Regions from separate parts of the Homo sapiens genome. Here region 2 is linked to region 1. The links come from fine-mapping of genetic effects on gene expression. A gene starts in region 1. The other region holds a variant in brackets. All regions are shown on one strand. Distances are between the middles of the regions.

Region 1 (8,318 bases):
AGAGGGAGACGCCAGCTCACCTCAGAGTAGGAAACCAGGAAAAAGCGCCAAGCCCTTCCCAGGCCCCTGAAACCAGGGAGCAGGCCCCACACAGCCAGTCCAAGGAGCTGGAAACTTCTGACAGGCTGCTGTGGGCCCAGGAAGCAGGGCCTTGCGCGAACAAGGGGCCTCCTCTCTCCTCCCGGCCCCGCTCTGGGTGCGGAGGGCCTGGCACGCACCTGTCTCTGGCCACCTGCTCCCGAGGACTCCCCAAGCCGTCTGGGCCGCTGGGGCTTCCATTCCTGCAACGTCAGCTGGTCTCACAGTGCCACAGCTGGGGAGCCTGGGGCCGGTGGGGCCACAGGAGGGCCGTGACCCCCTTAGACCTGAGGACTCTGAGCTGGGACAGTCAGCCAGGGAGAGGGTGGAAGAGTCTGGGGTGACCCAGGCCGCGGGGGCAGCCCTGCTGCAGGCTGGACTGATGGAGGCCTGCCGGGAACAGGGTGTGTGCTGAGCCCTGCGGGGAGGAGATCTGGGCCCAGTCAGTGCTGGGCGTCTGTGATGCCACAAGGTTGCAGGAGCCCCTGCCTGCGTCTGCACCGAAGAGCGCCGGGCACAGGGAACTGGGCTGGCATCCTGGGGCTGCTGGACGGGGCGTCTTCCCTCGCAGCCCTGGAGGCCACGCTCCTGACTCTGGGTAGAGCCCTTCCTTGCCTGGTGGGGTGGGGGTGGAGGGTCCTCAATCCTTGGCCTGCAGAGGCATCGCCTGGGTGTCAGTCTCTAGCCACACAGTGGCTTTTTCCCAGGTCTTTTCTGGTAAGGACACCAGTTCCGTGGGAGTAAGGCCACCTCAGGACCTTGCCTTAACGCAATTCCACCTGCAGAGACCCGACTTCCAGACAAGGTCAGTTTGTAGCTGCTGGGTTAGGGCTTGGAATATCTTTTAGGGGGCACAGTTCAGTCCCGTAACAGGAGCCTTGACAGCCAGGATCCCAGCCAGACACAGGTGGGCAGGTGGGAACCTGGAGGCCTCAGGGGCGGGGGTGCCTCCGGATGCAGGTAGCACTTTGCATCTTGGGGGTGACCAACCAGGCCACAGGCCCGGCGGGTACCCAGGGCTGGCCCAGAGAGCTGGAGCCAACGTCAGGTGCCTGCATGCCAGCCTCAGGGGGCAGAGAGGCAGGACCATAGTCCCCAGGAAGAGGGCAGAAGGGGGTGCTCTCCTCCTGGGGGATCCTGAAGGGACCAGAGCCCATCCTCTTGGCTTGACCTGCATTCCCTGCCGGCCCTGTGCCTCCTGGGGGCTGTGTGCGTGTGGCTGCGCCGTGCCCGTCCAGCCCTGACACTGTCCCCTCCATGGTAGGTTCTCGGGGCCACTAGAGGAGAAACATCCGTGTGGCTGAGGAAGAGTTGGCTGTTTTGTATCCCAAGTTCCCACATGGAAATGAATTCGGTGACCCCCCATCTCCCGAGGGCCTCCTGGTTTGGCCCTGGTCTCCGGGAACCGAGTACCTGGGTGGGTGGGGAGCTGTACAAGCTAAGACCAGGGAAGGACGCCTGGGGGACGGATGCCACGGCCCGTGCACGGTCGATTGGAGCCGCAGGGCAGGGAGGATCTACAGGGCAAGTTCCAGGTGAGACCAGAGAGAGCTGCAGCTGCCCCGGCTCTGGAAGCCCCCAGCCCTCCCGAGGCCCAGCCTTCAGCCCACGTATCCTCTGAACCCGTTCACCACGGTACGGCTGGGGAGGGTCAGCCTGGGGCAGGCTTTGTTCTGATATGAAATTTAATGTCTTAGGCTGAAAAACACTAAATTTCCATTTTTTTGTAGGTCAGAAGTGGTTGCAAACTGGATTTTTAGACTCTTCCTGTTGGGGGTCTCGGACATTTGCTCTTTTCCACAGCGGCCAATTCTTCAGAGCCACAAAGAACTGGGCGACGCAGGCCAGAGGTGTGGGAGTCCAGCCCTTGGTTCGAATCCCGCTCTCCACTGTCCATGGGGTTCTCAGCAAGCCCTCTGGCCTCTCCAAGCACACGCAGGGTTCCTCAAGCAATTCCAAACTCCAGAGAAGACATCCCAGGTAAAATCGGATGGCAGGGACCTGGGACACCGCTGTGACGGGCAGCCCCTGGGCTCGAGTCCACAACTCCCACGGGAGGGCAGGGCCCCATCCTGCTCACACCGGGGTCCCCAGCCCTCGATCCTCACGAGTCCTCGTCCAAGAACAAACTGTGCACACACGGGCGGTCAGTCCTGGATTCAAGGTGGCCCATCGGAGCTCGAACTCAACGGCCTGACCTAGGGACGCCTCCAGTCCCACCCCTACCTTTTGGAGGTGGGAGAATCACCGTGCAGGTCACTGACCCACTGACCACAGATCACCACTCTCTCCCGCCCCCGTTTCTTCCTCCTGAGACCACTGCTGCCTTCAAACGCAAGTAACCCAAACCTGCTCCCAAACCCATGGCAAGACTGACCCGGAGCCTAACCCAGCCCTGCCCCGAGCCTGACCCTGATGCTCGAGACTAGACCCCAGACTGGACCCGGTCCCAAAGTGGGACAACAAAGACCACAGCGGGGACCACCCAGGTCCCCCAGAGAGAAAACCCGCGTCGGACTCCAGGGAGCTCATGGTAACCCCTTGTCCTGGGGCAGCTTCATTTTACTTTGGCAAGGACCGCAGTGTTCGCTTTTCTCATTAAACGAGGGGCTTTCAAGGATGTGTTAAAGTACGTGAGAGACGGGCCTGGTGCCGGCTGGTCCTGTTTTCTTAAGGCGGAAGTTGGGGAACCGCGTCAGCACTCCGGGGTTCGGATTCCTGGAACCTGGGGCAGAGTCTGAAATAAAGCAGCACCGGCCCTGTGTGGCGCGGACCCATGGGAAGCCTTGAAAGGAAAGTCTCTTCAGAAAGAAACAATGGGTTCAGTGACTTGTACACTGAAAAGATAGATGGCCAGTTTTAAAGTTCTCCTGCGTTTAAACACGGGCAGCAGCGGGGTTGACGGTACAGGCACCAAGTTCTGACATAAAAGTCTTTCCTTAAATCATGTAAAAAAACCGAGACGTGCGCACTGCCAACTTACACTCATCGACACAAACTTACAATATTTATAAATAAGTCGCAAGCAAACACTGAGTTACATTTACCACGAAGTCACTGGACAGAGACCAAAATCCCATGAAAGCGGATTGATGTGAAACCACGTTAGATCTGAGACGCAGACGTGAGAAACGCCACTGATAAGAGACACGGAAGATCGGAGCCCAGCCCCGTGAGCCGGTCGGGGACAGCACGGGGGTCAGCGTGCGGCCGGGCCCGGCTCAGGCTCGCTGAGGTCCAGGAACGGGCACCTCCACCTGGACACGGCGCGCTGCCCCGGCAACCCCCAGGGGTCTCCCAAACGCAGACCGGGACGCAGCGACCACAAGCGTGGCTGCGGGACGGGGGCCTTGGGGCCCGGGCGTAGTGCGCCCGCTCGGCACCTGCCCCAAGGCGCCGCCGGGTGAAGCAGGTGTCCCGGAGGGCCGGGCCGCGGCGGCTCAGGGGATGCCCTCCCTTCTCTGGCAGCACTGCGAGGGCGGCGCGGACCAGTCGTACACGTAGGACAGGCGCAGCTGCACCTCGCGCTTGCACAGGCGGCCCTCGCGCGCCAGCGTCGCGTGCTTCTCCAGCATGTCCTCCAGGCTCTGCTTGTGCGTCACCAGGTACTGGTTGCTGCAGCCGCGGGACCGGTATTCGGTGTCGAAGCGCGGGTCGTGCTCCCGCTGGACGTCCACCGGCGCCAGCCAGGCGCCCAGAGACACGTCCTCGCTGTGCCAGGCGCGCAGGTAGTCGCGGCTGAGGCGCAGGTAGTGCACCAGGTCGGCCGAGAGCACGTAGCCGCCGCCCAGCGCGTAGGGCAGGTAGTAGTCGCAGAGTTGCCAGGCGGCCTCGCGCCAGCGCCCCCCCGGCTTGACGCGGCCGCGGCCCGAGAAGAAGCCCCAGTAGAGGCGGCGGCGGCGCGCGGGCTCGCGGGCGCGCAGCTCGGCCAGCAGCGCGTCCAGCCGCGCGAAGGAGTCGTCGTCCGCCTTGAGCACGAACTCGAAGGCCACGTGCTCGTCCAGCCAGGCCAGCATGGCCAGCACCTTGGCCGTGAGGTTTTCGTAGGCGTCGCGCAGCGCGGGCAGCAGCAGCAGGTCCCCGTGCCGCGCCTGCTCCCGCTCCAGGGCGCGCCGCTCCTCGGCGCCCAGGCCGGCCGTGCCCACGGCAAAGCGCGCCCACACGTCGCCCGGGGCCCCGCGCCGCGCAAGCCACGTGCTGCGGATCACGCTGCGGCGCTCGGCGGCGCGGGGCGCGCTGGCCACCAGCACTGCCAGGAAGGCGGCGGCGCGCGCGGGCGCGGGGGGAGGCGGGCTGCGGCCCGACATCGCCCTGGGGTCCCCGGGCTCGGCCGCGCAGCGCGCCAGGTAGAGCAGCGCCGCCCCGCACAGCGCCAGCGTGCCCAGGCCTAGCGCCGCCCGCCGCCGCCACGCCCGCCGCAGCAGCTTCATGGCGCCCGCGCCGGGCCGGCGGCCCAGGCCGGACTCGCGAGTGCGCAGGCGCCGCCGGCTCGGGGCGGTGCGCGTGCGCACGGCGCTCCTGGGAGCGCGCCGGGGCCTTCCGCAGACGCCGAGCCCCGGGGCGCTCGGAGGCCGGCGGCCAATCGGCGGCCGTCACGTGGCCTCGGGCACCCTTGTCATTGGTCAACCTCGGAGCGGCCCCGCGACCGCTTCCGCCCGGAGGAGAGATGGTGGCGCCGGCGTCCCCTCCGTGAGGTCGCGCCCGTTCGCACCGCCCCCGCCCGCAAGAAAGATGGCAGTGGCCTGATCCGGGCCCGTTGGCGGCGTCACTGACGCTTCGCTCCGGTCCTCGGATCCCGAGCGCGGGGAGGCAGACCGGTGAGTGAGGGGCCCGGGACGGCCGCTGCAGGCCGCGGGGCCAAGTGTACGCCGGCCGGACGGCGAGGGCGGGTCTGGAGGCCGCCGCCGCCTCCCGCCTTGGGCTGGGGCATCGTCCGTCCGCTCGGCCTTGAGCCCTGGCGAGACTCCGCCGCCACCGGGGCTCCCGGGGTTCCCGGGGGCAGGGACAGGCCGACGACGCTGGCCTCCCCGGCCGCCGGCACGTCTGGTCTCCTACTGGCCAAAACCTACGAATGCCACCGGGAAACGGAGGCCCAAGGGGTCTGGTTGGACTCGCGTTTATCGGCGAGGCGACCTTGGACAAGCTGCCCCGCTTCCCTGCGCCTGCGCTTCCGCTTCTGAACCGCGTGGACCCTCATCCCCAGTTAGTAGGATTTGGAGATGTGAAGTCGGCTGTGTGGAGCCCTTGATGTCTGGCTCAGAGGCGGTGTTATGAACCCTGTTGAGCTTTTAGAATCTAACCGTGTGTGTTGTTAACTGCCAGAAATAGCCTCGTTCCACCAGAGCTGAAGCCCAGGGATGGCAAAGAAATAGCGTCTCTGCCTAAGCTGTTTCCCACGTCCGTTTTGCAAGGGTGTGTTGATTCCTTGCTGGGAACTGAGCTGCTAGGGGATGGCGAAGTCGAAACCCCATTCCGGTGGGACCGGCCCGCTCCGCTGTGCTGCGAACCTGGCACACCGTGATGAATAGATACTCTGAAGCCAGGAGAGGAAGCGCCACTTGATGGACTCCTGATATTTATAGTTACTTTTGGGTTACTTTTTATTCCCCCTTTTTCGAGACAGGGTCTTATCTTTTTGTTTTTGTTTTTTAAAGAGACGCAGTCTCACTGTGTTGCCCAGGCTGGTCTCACGATCCTCCTGCCTCAAGTAAACCGTGTAACTCATCAAGATATGTAGAATCAAGAACTAGCTTTATTTTCTCTAGGAACAAAGTACAGTCTCTTTGCACACAGCGTGTGTTTTACGACTGTAGTTAGTGGAGTCAGCACCAGGAGGAGGTGTCTTGGTTCTTATCCAGGACTCTCCCCTGGTCAGGCGATCTGGGACGACAGGAATAGAATTATGCCACCACTAGGGAAGGGAAAAGCCCTCAGCCATGTTCAGAAAATCAGGCCGGGTGCATGGCTCACGCCTATAGTCCCAGCACTTTGGGAGGCCGAGGCAGGAGGATCACTTCAGGTCAGGAGTTAGAGACCAGCCTGGCCAACATGGCAAAACCCCATCTCTACTAAAAATACAGATTAGTGGAGAGTGGAGGTGGGTGCCTGTAATCCCAGCTAACTGGGAGGCCGAGGCAGGAGAATCACTTGAACCTGGGAGGTGGAGGTTGCAGTGAGCCGAGACTGCACCACTGCACTCCAGCCTGGGCGACAGAGTGAGACTCTGTCTCAGAAAAAAAAAAAAAATCAGACATGAGCCCCTCACCCAGGGTTTCCTTCCTTGGGGGAACTCAGGCTTGTACCCCTCTTGGTTTGTGGCAGACTGCACTGACTTCAGGACCACTTTCATGGCGGCCCCACTGGTGTTTCTCGATACCTGGAGGCAGCATTTTTTCGTTTAATATTACCCAGGGTAGCATTCGTTGAGCGCCTACTGTGTGCAGGCAGAGTGGCAGGTGCCAGAACAGTGAAGCTGAATAAGACGGCCACAGAACAGGAGTCTCAGTCCATGTGTGTTGAGGGAACAGCTGTGACATGGCGGGGCCTCAGCGGCACCCGAAAGGACCCGCAGGTGTTTGCCGGAGGGGCAGACTGTGAAAGGAGTAGGCTCGTGGGTGAGAAGGACCCCGAGTTCCCTTTGGGATACATGAGGCATGAGGCCCTGTGAGCCCCTGCTTCCCACCAGGACTGGCCACGCCTCGGACGGCAGGACAGACTTCTGGGCTCCTCGGCCTTGGCGTTCGCTCGCGAGTGTGGGCAAGGGCACATGTGTGTAATACGTGCATGCGTGAGTGTGGATGTGTGTGTGCACATCTGTGTGTGGGGGTTGTGTGTTTGTTTGCTGGGACCAGGCCCTGACGCCCTCTGCACTTAGGGTTGGCTGTCTTCGCAAAGCCTGGTCAGTCGGGGGGAGAGGGGGAGCCTCCTGTTTCTTAGTGAGAAGCTGAGGCCGGGGAGGCCACATGACTTAGCTAAGGTCATAGATCTCAAGAATGTTCAAGTCAGGGTCTGGAGAGTGACCCTAACCCCATGGGTCAGTGGCATGATGCCAGGAGGGACAGAGCCGGGCCCCACAGGAAAGCTGTGCTGCAGGTGTTGGGCGATGGGGACAGGTTAGCCCCTGGAGGTGCTGACAGCTCGAGAGAGAGATGGAAAGACGGAGAGACAGGGCTGAAAACTCAGTGTCTGTAAAAAAAAGACCGGGCACAGTGGCTCACGCCTGTAATCCCAGCACGTTGGGAGACTGAGGCAAGAGGATCGCTTGAAGCCAGGAGTTTGAGACCAGCCTGAGCAATACAGCGAGACCCGTCTCTACAAAGAGTAAAATAAAAATAAATTACTGGGCGTGGGGGTGCACGCCTGTGGTCGCAGCTGCTCCGGTGGCTGAGGCGAGAGCATCACCTGAGCCCAGAGCATCACCTGAGCCCAGGAGTTCGTGGTCACGGTGAGCTGTGGTCACCGCTGTACTCCAGCCTGGGTGACAGAGCAAGACCCTGTTTCTAAAAATAAAGAAAAAAACACCACGTGTGGTCCGGAGAAAACAAATGCCACGTGTGGTCCAGAGAAAACAAATGCCACGTGTGGCCCGGAGAAAACAATGCCACGTGTGGTCTGGAGAAGGCAGTGCCACGTGTGGTCTGGAGAAGGCGATGCCACATGTCTGGATCCTGTGAATCGAGGATATGTTTCATGTTGCAGGATAGACGTGCTTGGGGAAGTCTTTGCTGAGTCTTGCTAATGATGTGTCTGTGTCTCTCTGCAGACTGTGAGCTGCTTGTCCCCATCCTGCGGCCGTCCTGGGGACACAGAGCCCTCCGTGGTGCCCGGGGATTGGATTGGAGCCAGGACCTCACTTCCTCCTCTGCCCCTGCCCCTGCCCCTCCCAGCACCTGGCCCACACCCTGCAGCCCGCCCCATGGTCTGGCCCTGGGTGGCGATGGCGTCCAGGTGGGGTCCCCTCATTGGCCTGGCTCCGTGCTGCCTCTGGCTCCTGGGGGCAGTCCTTCTGATGGACGCGTCTGCACGGCCTGCCAACCACTCGTCCACTCGAGAGAGAGTAGCCAACAGGGAGGAGAATGAGATCCTGCCCCCAGACCACCTGAACGGGGTGAAGCTGGAGATGGACGGGCACCTCAATCGCGGCTTCCACCAGGAGGTCTTCCTAGGCAAGGACCTGGGTGGCTTTGATGAGGACGCGGAGCCGCGGCGGAGCCGGAGGAAGCTGATGGTCATCTTTTCCA
Region 2 (8,318 bases), 160 kb before region 1:
TGGAGGTAAGGCTTCCTCCTGCACTTCATTCCCAGCGAAGTATGTTGAGGGTAAAACGGTTTGTTACTTTGCCCGGTTACTAAGGGAGTGAGTACTTGCCCCCCAGTCTGAGCTCTGTGCCGGAGGGTTCTGTTTCTTGACTTTTTTTTTCCCCTGGGTGCACCTCCCTTTTGGTCTGAATAGCCCTCAAGCCTTTGGCGGCCGTCAGGACGCCGTGGCTGGGGACAAACATGGGCGTGTTGCAATGCTTCCGCTTCAGCATGTGTCAATGGCCTGTGTCCACCTGGCTTCCAAGATAGAAGAGGCCCCAAGACGCATACGGGACGTCATCAATGTGTTTCACCGCCTTCGACAGCTGAGAGACAAAAAGTGAGTCAGTCAGAGCTGTCTAGTCTATCATAGATGCCTATTTTCTTTATTTCTGATTAAGTTACAGTAAGGCTTGTATAACACAATACAGGCCTGAGGCTCTAAACCTGTGGGATATTCATGAGCGCAGTCTCAAGCTCCACCAACAGAGCCTGCTCAGAGGCATCAGTAGATGCGGTTTAGTAAGGGCAGGGGCTCCAGTGAGGACAGTGCGCTGTGGCGGGTCGCGCTGGGGCTGGCTTCCTGCTTTACCCATGTCAGTGCACGGCCCTGCTGCTGCTTCTGTCCCACAAGTTTCTGAGTGCTCTGGAGCAGGGAATCTTAATCTCAGCACTATTGACATTCAGGCTGGATAATCTTTTTTTTCCTCCTGAGACAGGTTTCCTGTTGTCCAGGGCAGAGTGCGGTGGTATGATCATGGCTCACTACAGCCTCAACCTCCTAGGCTCAAGAGTTTCTCCTGCCTCAGCCTCCTGAGTAGCTGGGACTATAGGAGCACGCCAACCATGCCAGCTAATTTTTATTTTTTATTTGGTAAAGATGGGGTCATGCTGTGTTGCCCAGGCTGGTCTCAAATTCCTGGGCTCCAAGGATTTGCTGGCCTTAGCCTCCCAAAGCACTGGGATTACAGATTTCAGCCACCGCATCTGGCTGGGTAATCTTTAGTTGTAGGGGATTCTCCTGTGTGCTGCAGGATTCAGCAACATCCCTGGTCTCGACTCACTGGATGACAGGAGTACCCCACCTTAGATGTGACAGCCAGAAATTCTCTCATACCAGATGTGGGAGCTCACACCTGTCATCTCAGCACTTGGGAGACTGAAAAAGGAGGTTTGCTTGAGGCCAGGAGATTGAGGCTGCAGTGAGCTGTGATGTCACCACTGCACTCCAGCCTGGACAACAGGGTGAGGCCCTGTTTCCAAAAAAAACGAAAGTCTGTTGATGTTGCTTCATGGCCCTGGAATAGTAAAATTTCTCCAGCAGAGAACCGCTGCCTCTGACCTTAGCCCAGGGTTTATGCACCTGAAGTTAATTGAAGTCCTTTAGAAAACACAGCCTCTGGCCGGGCTGGCCTGTAATCCCAGCACGTTGGGAGGCCTAGGCAGGTGGATCACCTAAGGTCAGGAGTTCGAGACCAGCCTAACCAATATGGTGAAACCCTGTCCCTATTAAGAACACAAAAATTGGCCAGGTGCAGTGGCTCACGCCTGTAATCCCAGCACTTTGGGAGGCCGAGGCGGGTGGATCACGAGGTCAGGAGATCGAGACCATCCTGGCTAACACGGTGAAACCCCGTCTACTAAAAATACAAAAAAGTTAGCCAGGCGTGGTGGCGGGTGCCTGTGGTCCCAGCTACTTGGGAGGCTGAGGCAGGAGAATGGCGTGAACCCGGGAGGTGGAGCTTGCAGTGAGCTGAGATCGGGCCACTGCACTCCAGCCTGGGCGACAGAGCAAGACTCCGTCTCAAAAAAAAATAAAAAAAAAATTAGCCGGGTGTGGTTGCGGGTGCCTGTAATCCCAGCTATTCGGGAGGGTGAGGCAGGAGAATCGCTGGAACCGGGGAGTTAGAGGTGCAGTGAGCTGAGATTGTGCCATTGCACTCCAGCCTGGGCAACAAAAGTGAAACTCTGTCTCAAAAAAAAAAAAAAAAAAAAAAAAAACAGCCTTGCCGAGCGCAGTGGCTCACGCCTATAGTCCCAGCACTTTGGGAGGCCAAGGCGGGTGGATCATCTGAGGTCGGGAGTTCGAGACCAGCCTGACCAACATGTAGAAACCCCATCTCTACTACAAATATAAAATTAGCTGGTCGTGGTGGTGCATGCCTGTAATACCAGCTACTTGGGAGGCTGAGGCAGGAGAATTGCTTGAACCTGGGAGGTGGAGGTTATAGTGAGCCAAGAGCGCGCCACTGCACTCCAGCCTGGGCAACAGAGTGAGACTCCATCTCAAAAAAAGAAAAAACATGGCCTCATCGGCCTCCCAAAGTGCTGGGGTTACAGGTGTGAGCCACTGCACCCAGCCCTTTTTTTTTTTTTTTTTTTCTGAGACGGACTCTCACTGTGTCTCACCGTGTCACCCAGGCTGGAGTGCAGTGATGCGATCTCGGCTCACTGAAACCTCCGCCTCCTGGGTTCAAGTGAATCTCCTGCCTCAGCCTCCTGAGTAGCTGGGATTACAAGCACCCGCCACCACGCCCGGCTAATTTTTGCATTTTTTTAGTAGAGACAGGGTTTCACCATGTTGGTCAGACTGGTCTTGAACTCCTGAGCTCAGGCAGTCTGCCTGCCTCGCCTCCCAAAGTGCTGGGATTACAGGCAGAGCCACTGCACCTGGCCCATCTGTATTTAAATAATTGTGCTTTCATTGGTTCTGTGGTTATTGAACTGTGAATATGTACCTTCCTATCGTGAGTCACATAAAGTGCTTTAGCATTTGTGCCACGAGATCCTAAAACTTGCTATGTTCGGTCTATGCTTGTGCACCAGAAGCTGTTGATCTATAAGGAAAAGCAGGGAGGGATCGTTGGGAAGGGATGAGGAGGTTGGCACTGGGCTGTGGGGAGCGGTGTGCAGTTTTGTTCATCAGAGGATGTGGACTTCATAGCGATGTTGTGTTGTGGGGTTTGTGTTAGGTGCTCATAGTTGGAGGTAACGACGGGATCTCAGAAGCCTTGCTCTGCTTGACTGTGGTGCAGACCCTGTGCTCTCTCTCTGGCAGGAAGCCCGTGCCTCTACTACTGGATCAAGATTATGTTAATTTAAAGAACCAAATTATAAAGGCGGAAAGACGAGTTCTCAAAGAGTTGGGTTTCTGCGTCCATGTGAAGCATCCTCATAAGGTGGGTGTGCGGCTCCTGCCCTGCGAGCCCGCCTAGGCCGCTGCTCCTGCCTGGCCGCCTCTCTCCACCTCAGTGCAGTTGAAGGCTCTGAAGAGGACTGAGTGCATCCCTGACTTGGCTTTCCAGTTTCTATTTATAATCTCAAGAATAGTTCCTGACGTATTCGTCTTCTAGTGTCAGCTGTTTATTTTAGTAACACATTTTTAAGTGTTTTGGAAATGGTATTATTTAAGTTTGGGCTTTCAAAAATAGTGGTGAGTTTATAAATGTTGAATTTTAGTTTATGTTTTCCTTTCTCTACAGTTAATTTTTTTTTGTTTTCTTTTTTTTTGAGATGGAGTTTCGCT[C/T]TATCGCCAGGCTGGAGTGCAGTGGCATGGTGGCAGTGGCAGTGGAGGCACAACCTCCACCTCCCGGCTTCAAGCCATTCTCCTGCCTCAGCCTCCTGAGTAGCTGGCACTACAGGCACGTGCCACCACGCCGAGCTGATTTTTGTATTTTTAGTAGAGACGGGGTTTCACCATGTTGGCCAGAATGGTCTTCATCTCTTGCCCTCGTGATCCTCCCACCTTGGCCTCCCAAAGTGCTGGGATTACAGGCATAAGCCACTGTGCCTGGCCTTTTTTTTTTTTTTTTTTTTTTTTCTTGAGACGGAGTCTTACTCTGTCATGCAGGCTGGAGTGCAGTGGTGCAATCTTGGCTCACTGCAACCTCTGCCTCCCAGGTTCAAGTGATTCTTGTGCCTCAGCCTCCCAAGTAGCTGGGATTACAGGCATGCGCCACCACACCTGGGTAATTTTTGTATCTTTAGTAGAGATGGGGTTTCGTCATGTTGGCCGGGCTGGTCTCAAACTCCTGATCTCAGGTGATGCACCTGCCTCGGCCTCCCAAAGTTCTGGGATTACAAGTGTGAGCCACTGCACCCAGCCTCAACAGTTAATTTTCTACATTTGCTTTAGTGATAGCTTTACTTTCTCTTATGGAGAAATTAGGGGAATTCTGGCCCCTTTAGTCTGAAATGACTGGCGAGTTTTGCGGCATGTACTGACTGAGGACCATGGCCGTGACACGGTCCCTCACTCCCAGCGTTGTGGGTGCCTTCTGTGTCACATGGAAACAAAGCACTTGTTTTCCCAAAAAATTGTTTCCATCTTTGGTTCCATCTCCTTTTTATTGGTGGGTTTCCTCATCTGCTTGTTCGGCTTTCTGCCATCTGTTCAAATTATCCACAAATTGCCCACCACAGATTGAAGTGCTTTTTTTTTTTTTTTGGAGACGGAATCTCGCTCTGTTGTCCAGGCTGGAGTGCAATGGCGCAACCTCAGCTCATGCAGCCTCCGCCTCCTGGTTTCAAGCGATTCTCCTGCCTCAGCCTCCTGAGTACCTGGGATTACAGGCGTGCACCACCATGCCTGACTAATTTTGTATTTTTAGTAGAGACTGGGTTTCTCCATATTGGTCAGGCTGTTCTCGAACTCCTGACCTCAGGTGATCTGCCCGCCTCAGCCTCCCAAAGTGCTGGGATTATAGGCATGAGCCAGTGTGCCTGGCCTGAAGTGTTCTTCTCTGTTTGCTGAAAGTATGTTCATATTGTGTTTTGGTGAGTTGTTAACTGGGATACAGAGACGTGTAGGACAGGCCAACCTCACTGGTGGAAAGGCATTGAAGACTAGAATGAAACCAGCCCCATGAAGAACGAGGCCTGTGCCGTGGGTTGTGTGGCTGGGCTCACGGGCATGCGTCCTGCCTGGCTGCCAAGGCAGACAGCAGGTGCAATCGCAAAGCTCCCTCCAGCTGAGCCGTCCGCCAGACGTGTGGCCAGGAGCCACTCCTGGGATCTAGCTTGAGGCTCTTGTTTGCTGCATGGACACCCACAAGATCTGAATTCTGGGCTCTTAAGGTTCTTGGTAATAACTGCCTGACCCGTATCTTCCAGATAATCGTTATGTACCTTCAGGTGTTAGAGTGTGAGCGTAACCAACACCTGGTCCAGACCTCATGGTGAGTTGAGCTTCCTTGTTTTATGAGACCAGCAAGGGCAGTGCAGGAATGTGTTGACTTGAGGCACTTGGGCAGTGGGTAGGCAGCCCAGTGACTTGGTTGTGGGCTGGAGTTGTCCGAGTGCCCAGTGCTCCTGCTGTATAAATTCCAATCAGACTCCCAAAATGGGCACTGGCAGTCACGGTAGGTGGCCCGTCCCCTCCCTGCAAGCCTGGACTTCCTGTGTCCCCCACCCTGAAGAGAGCAGTCAGTGGGCTTCCTCTGGGAGCTGTTGACTTGGCGCAGGGGGACCTTTTCCTGGGGAGGGTGGAGGGACAGGCTAGTGCAGACTTGGTCTGTTTCTCCACTGACATTGCATCCCATGGGAGAGGGGCAGAGAAGGTTCTGGGGCCGATTTTAGCAATGCATGTGCTAGAAAGGAACCCTAAAGTGCAATGTAGTATTTGGGGGATTCTGGGGATTCTGGTGAATTTTTTCCCATGGAGTTAAGTCTGTAAGGGTCATATTTTTGCTGACTGAATTGTCTGGTGCTATGACATGTTTAATAGAGAACCTATTTTGACTTTTCTTTTCTGTACTCTTTCAATCAAAGGGTAGCCTCTGAGGGTAAGTGACTAAGACTTCTCCTCTGCTGTCCAAGCGCTTTGGTGCAGGGACAGCGGCATCTTCAGCCAATCCAGTGCAGGCTCTCCACCGAAGGCTGGCTCTAGACTGGTGGTACGCACATAGCATAGCCATGGCCGACTCCTGCTGTGGTTCTCTGACGATTGTGCTTCTTGTTAATCCTCTGTCGTGCTTTGGTAATCGTATTGATTAGAGTTGGTAACTGTCTTGACTTGAATTTTGTCCCTTTAAAACTGCTGTACCTGTATGATAAAGATGCAGTACCTTTCTCTTAAAAAAAAATGCTATGGAAAGCTGTGAGAATTGAAGAGACAAATTGGCTGTGTCAGTGTGGGGTTATGTCATGATTTCTAGAAGCCCTGAAGTTGCTCTTTTGAGCAGCTTTGCATGACACGCTCTGGTAAAAGGTGTGCATCTTTAAATTATTTCATGGATACTTTGAAAAATATTGTATCACTTCAAATACAGCAATAAGTTTATATGTTCTCAAGATTTCATTTGTTTTTAAGAATTTTAAGTTCGTGGATTAATATCACTACTTGAATACTGACAGTTGTTGATTAGACACCGAAAGGTTACTGATTGTTGAATGTATCTGTGTTAGAGCTGTGCACTGGCACGCTTGCATCAGGGGCTGGGGCCACACGGCCGCCACACAGATTCCCCCGTGATGCCTGGAGCTGCTTCCAGAGCCGGGTGTCTCCAAGAGGCACCTGTAGGACTTCCCATTTAGAAATCTCTTGAGTGGGTTTGTATGTTACCTTCTCCAAGGTTTATTTAGGACAGAGATATTGCTGGAAGGTCATGGGTCAGATTCCCTCACAACCCACCTCGTCTGCGGGTGCAGCCCCACTCCAAGGCTCCCCGTTATTGGGGTATGTGAGGAGCAGTAAATATAAAACCAGTTCAACTGTCCTCATGGAATCACCCTTTCTGTTTTTGCAGTATTCATAAAGCTAGTGTAAGGTCTGGTTTTAGTCTATTAAATCTTAGAGATCTAAAGGAAATGCTCAAAATGTAGCCAGGTTTTAAATGCTTTAACTTTTAAAAAATGTAAATTTTTGTATGTTTATAGCTTCTAAATATGAAAGTTAAAGAATGTACTGTGATGAAATGTTCAGTATTATGTTGCTTCTCAGTATCATGTTGCTTCTCAGTATTGTGTTGCTTCTGATTCTATGAATGTTCATTTTAAGACCCCTTGTTGAAATGGGACAGTTGGCAGCGGCTCTGATGAGCCCGAGAAGAGGCCTGCCCTTGGGTGCGGAGTCTCCCTCCGCACGATGCTCCCACGCGTCCAACTTGCACCCAAGGGGCTTTTCCCTCTTCCAAGTGGACTCCTTCAAGGAAGCTGCAGCTCGGTCAGCAGAGAAGGGGCCTGCCGCCAGCGCCCTGGAGGAAGAGGAAGAGGAACCCAAGAGGATGGCTTGTCTCCCAGCAGCCACACCGGCTTTGTGCTCAGCCAGTTCATTTGAGTTTGCATGTTTCTCTGCACTATGGATTTTGAGCATTTAGATTTCTTTAATCAAAAGCGTTTTAGTGACTCCAGTAGACATTTTCTTTCTGAGGCATCGTGCTTTGCATGAGAGCAGGCCAAGGTTGAGGGGAAAAGTAAAGTTAAAGTCGGTTCTCTTTCATAGCAACACGTATTGTCTGACATTCAGCCAGCTTTTTTTTTTTCTAATAATTTCTGTGCCTTTCTGTCCTGTATTTACTGTATTTAGAAAAAGCAGCTAGAATATTTCTCCATTAACTCTTGAGATTCACAGGACTGTCTAGCTCTGAGTCCTAGCAATAGACTCCTTAGAGGAGTAGTACGTTTATCTAGATTTTCTCTAGATAATGCAGGCGGAAGACCTGGGTTCCCGGGTGGGGCATTGCAGTTCTTCCTGTGTTTGGCTTCCAGGAATTACATGAACGACAGCCTTCGCACCGACGTCTTCGTGCGGTTCCAGCCAGAGAGCATCGCCTGTGCCTGCATTTATCTTGCTGCCCGGACGCTGGAGGTCAGTGTGTTGCTACTATGGAGAGATTCTAGTCTGATTTTTTTTTCTCCAGCCTCCAGTAAACTTTACTGTGTTATTCTTCAAATTACTCTAATCTGGGCCAAAGCATTTTCGTGACCAACAGGCTGTTTTTTAATTGTCCTGAGTCTTGCTGGCCGTGAAGTTGAGGAAAGTGTAATGATGATAGTGTTTGTTTTTACAGATCCCTTTGCCCAATCGTCCCCATTGGTTTCTTTTGTTTGGAGCAACTGAAGAAGAAATTCAGGAAATCTGCTTAAAGATCTTGCAGCTTTATGCTCGGAAAAAGGTTCTTCGGCATTTTTTCATGTAACGTATGCGTTTGTGTTTGGCCAGAAACACCTGGTTCTGAACGGACACCTTCTGGCTTTTGCAGGTTGATCTCACACACCTGGAGGGTGAAGTGGAAAAAAGAAAGCACGCTATCGAAGAGGCAAAGGCCCAAGCCCGGGGCCTGTTGCCTG

What was found.
Region 2: its variant is fine-mapped to the expression of B3GALT6 in whole blood (TOPMed, PIP 0.98).

The regions. Positions count from the first base shown.
Region 1 is chr1:1,228,469-1,236,786 of GRCh38, reverse strand. B3GALT6 (beta-1,3-galactosyltransferase 6) reads right to left here and starts at 4,550. Exons shown (of 1, transcript NM_080605.4): 1 at 1,746-4,550. The coding sequence starts at 4,508. The coding sequence ends at 3,519. It overlaps SDF4 (stromal cell derived factor 4), which reads left to right and starts at 4,786. Exons shown (of 7, transcript NM_016176.6): 1 at 4,786-4,895; 2 at 7,841-8,318. The coding sequence starts at 8,015. RefSeq lists enhancers at 2,183-2,684, 3,469-4,150, 4,151-4,832 and a silencer at 4,449-5,308.
Region 2 is chr1:1,390,284-1,398,601 of GRCh38, reverse strand. It overlaps CCNL2 (cyclin L2), which reads left to right. Exons shown (of 11, transcript NM_030937.6): 2 at 1-5; 3 at 260-369; 4 at 3,088-3,208; 5 at 5,142-5,206; 6 at 7,737-7,836; 7 at 8,039-8,143; 8 at 8,231-8,318. Among named protein-coding and RNA genes, the nearest start is that of CCNL2, 4.9 kb to the left of the region's middle. RefSeq lists an enhancer at 5,140-5,640. The variant C/T (reference allele first, on the strand shown) is at 3,556.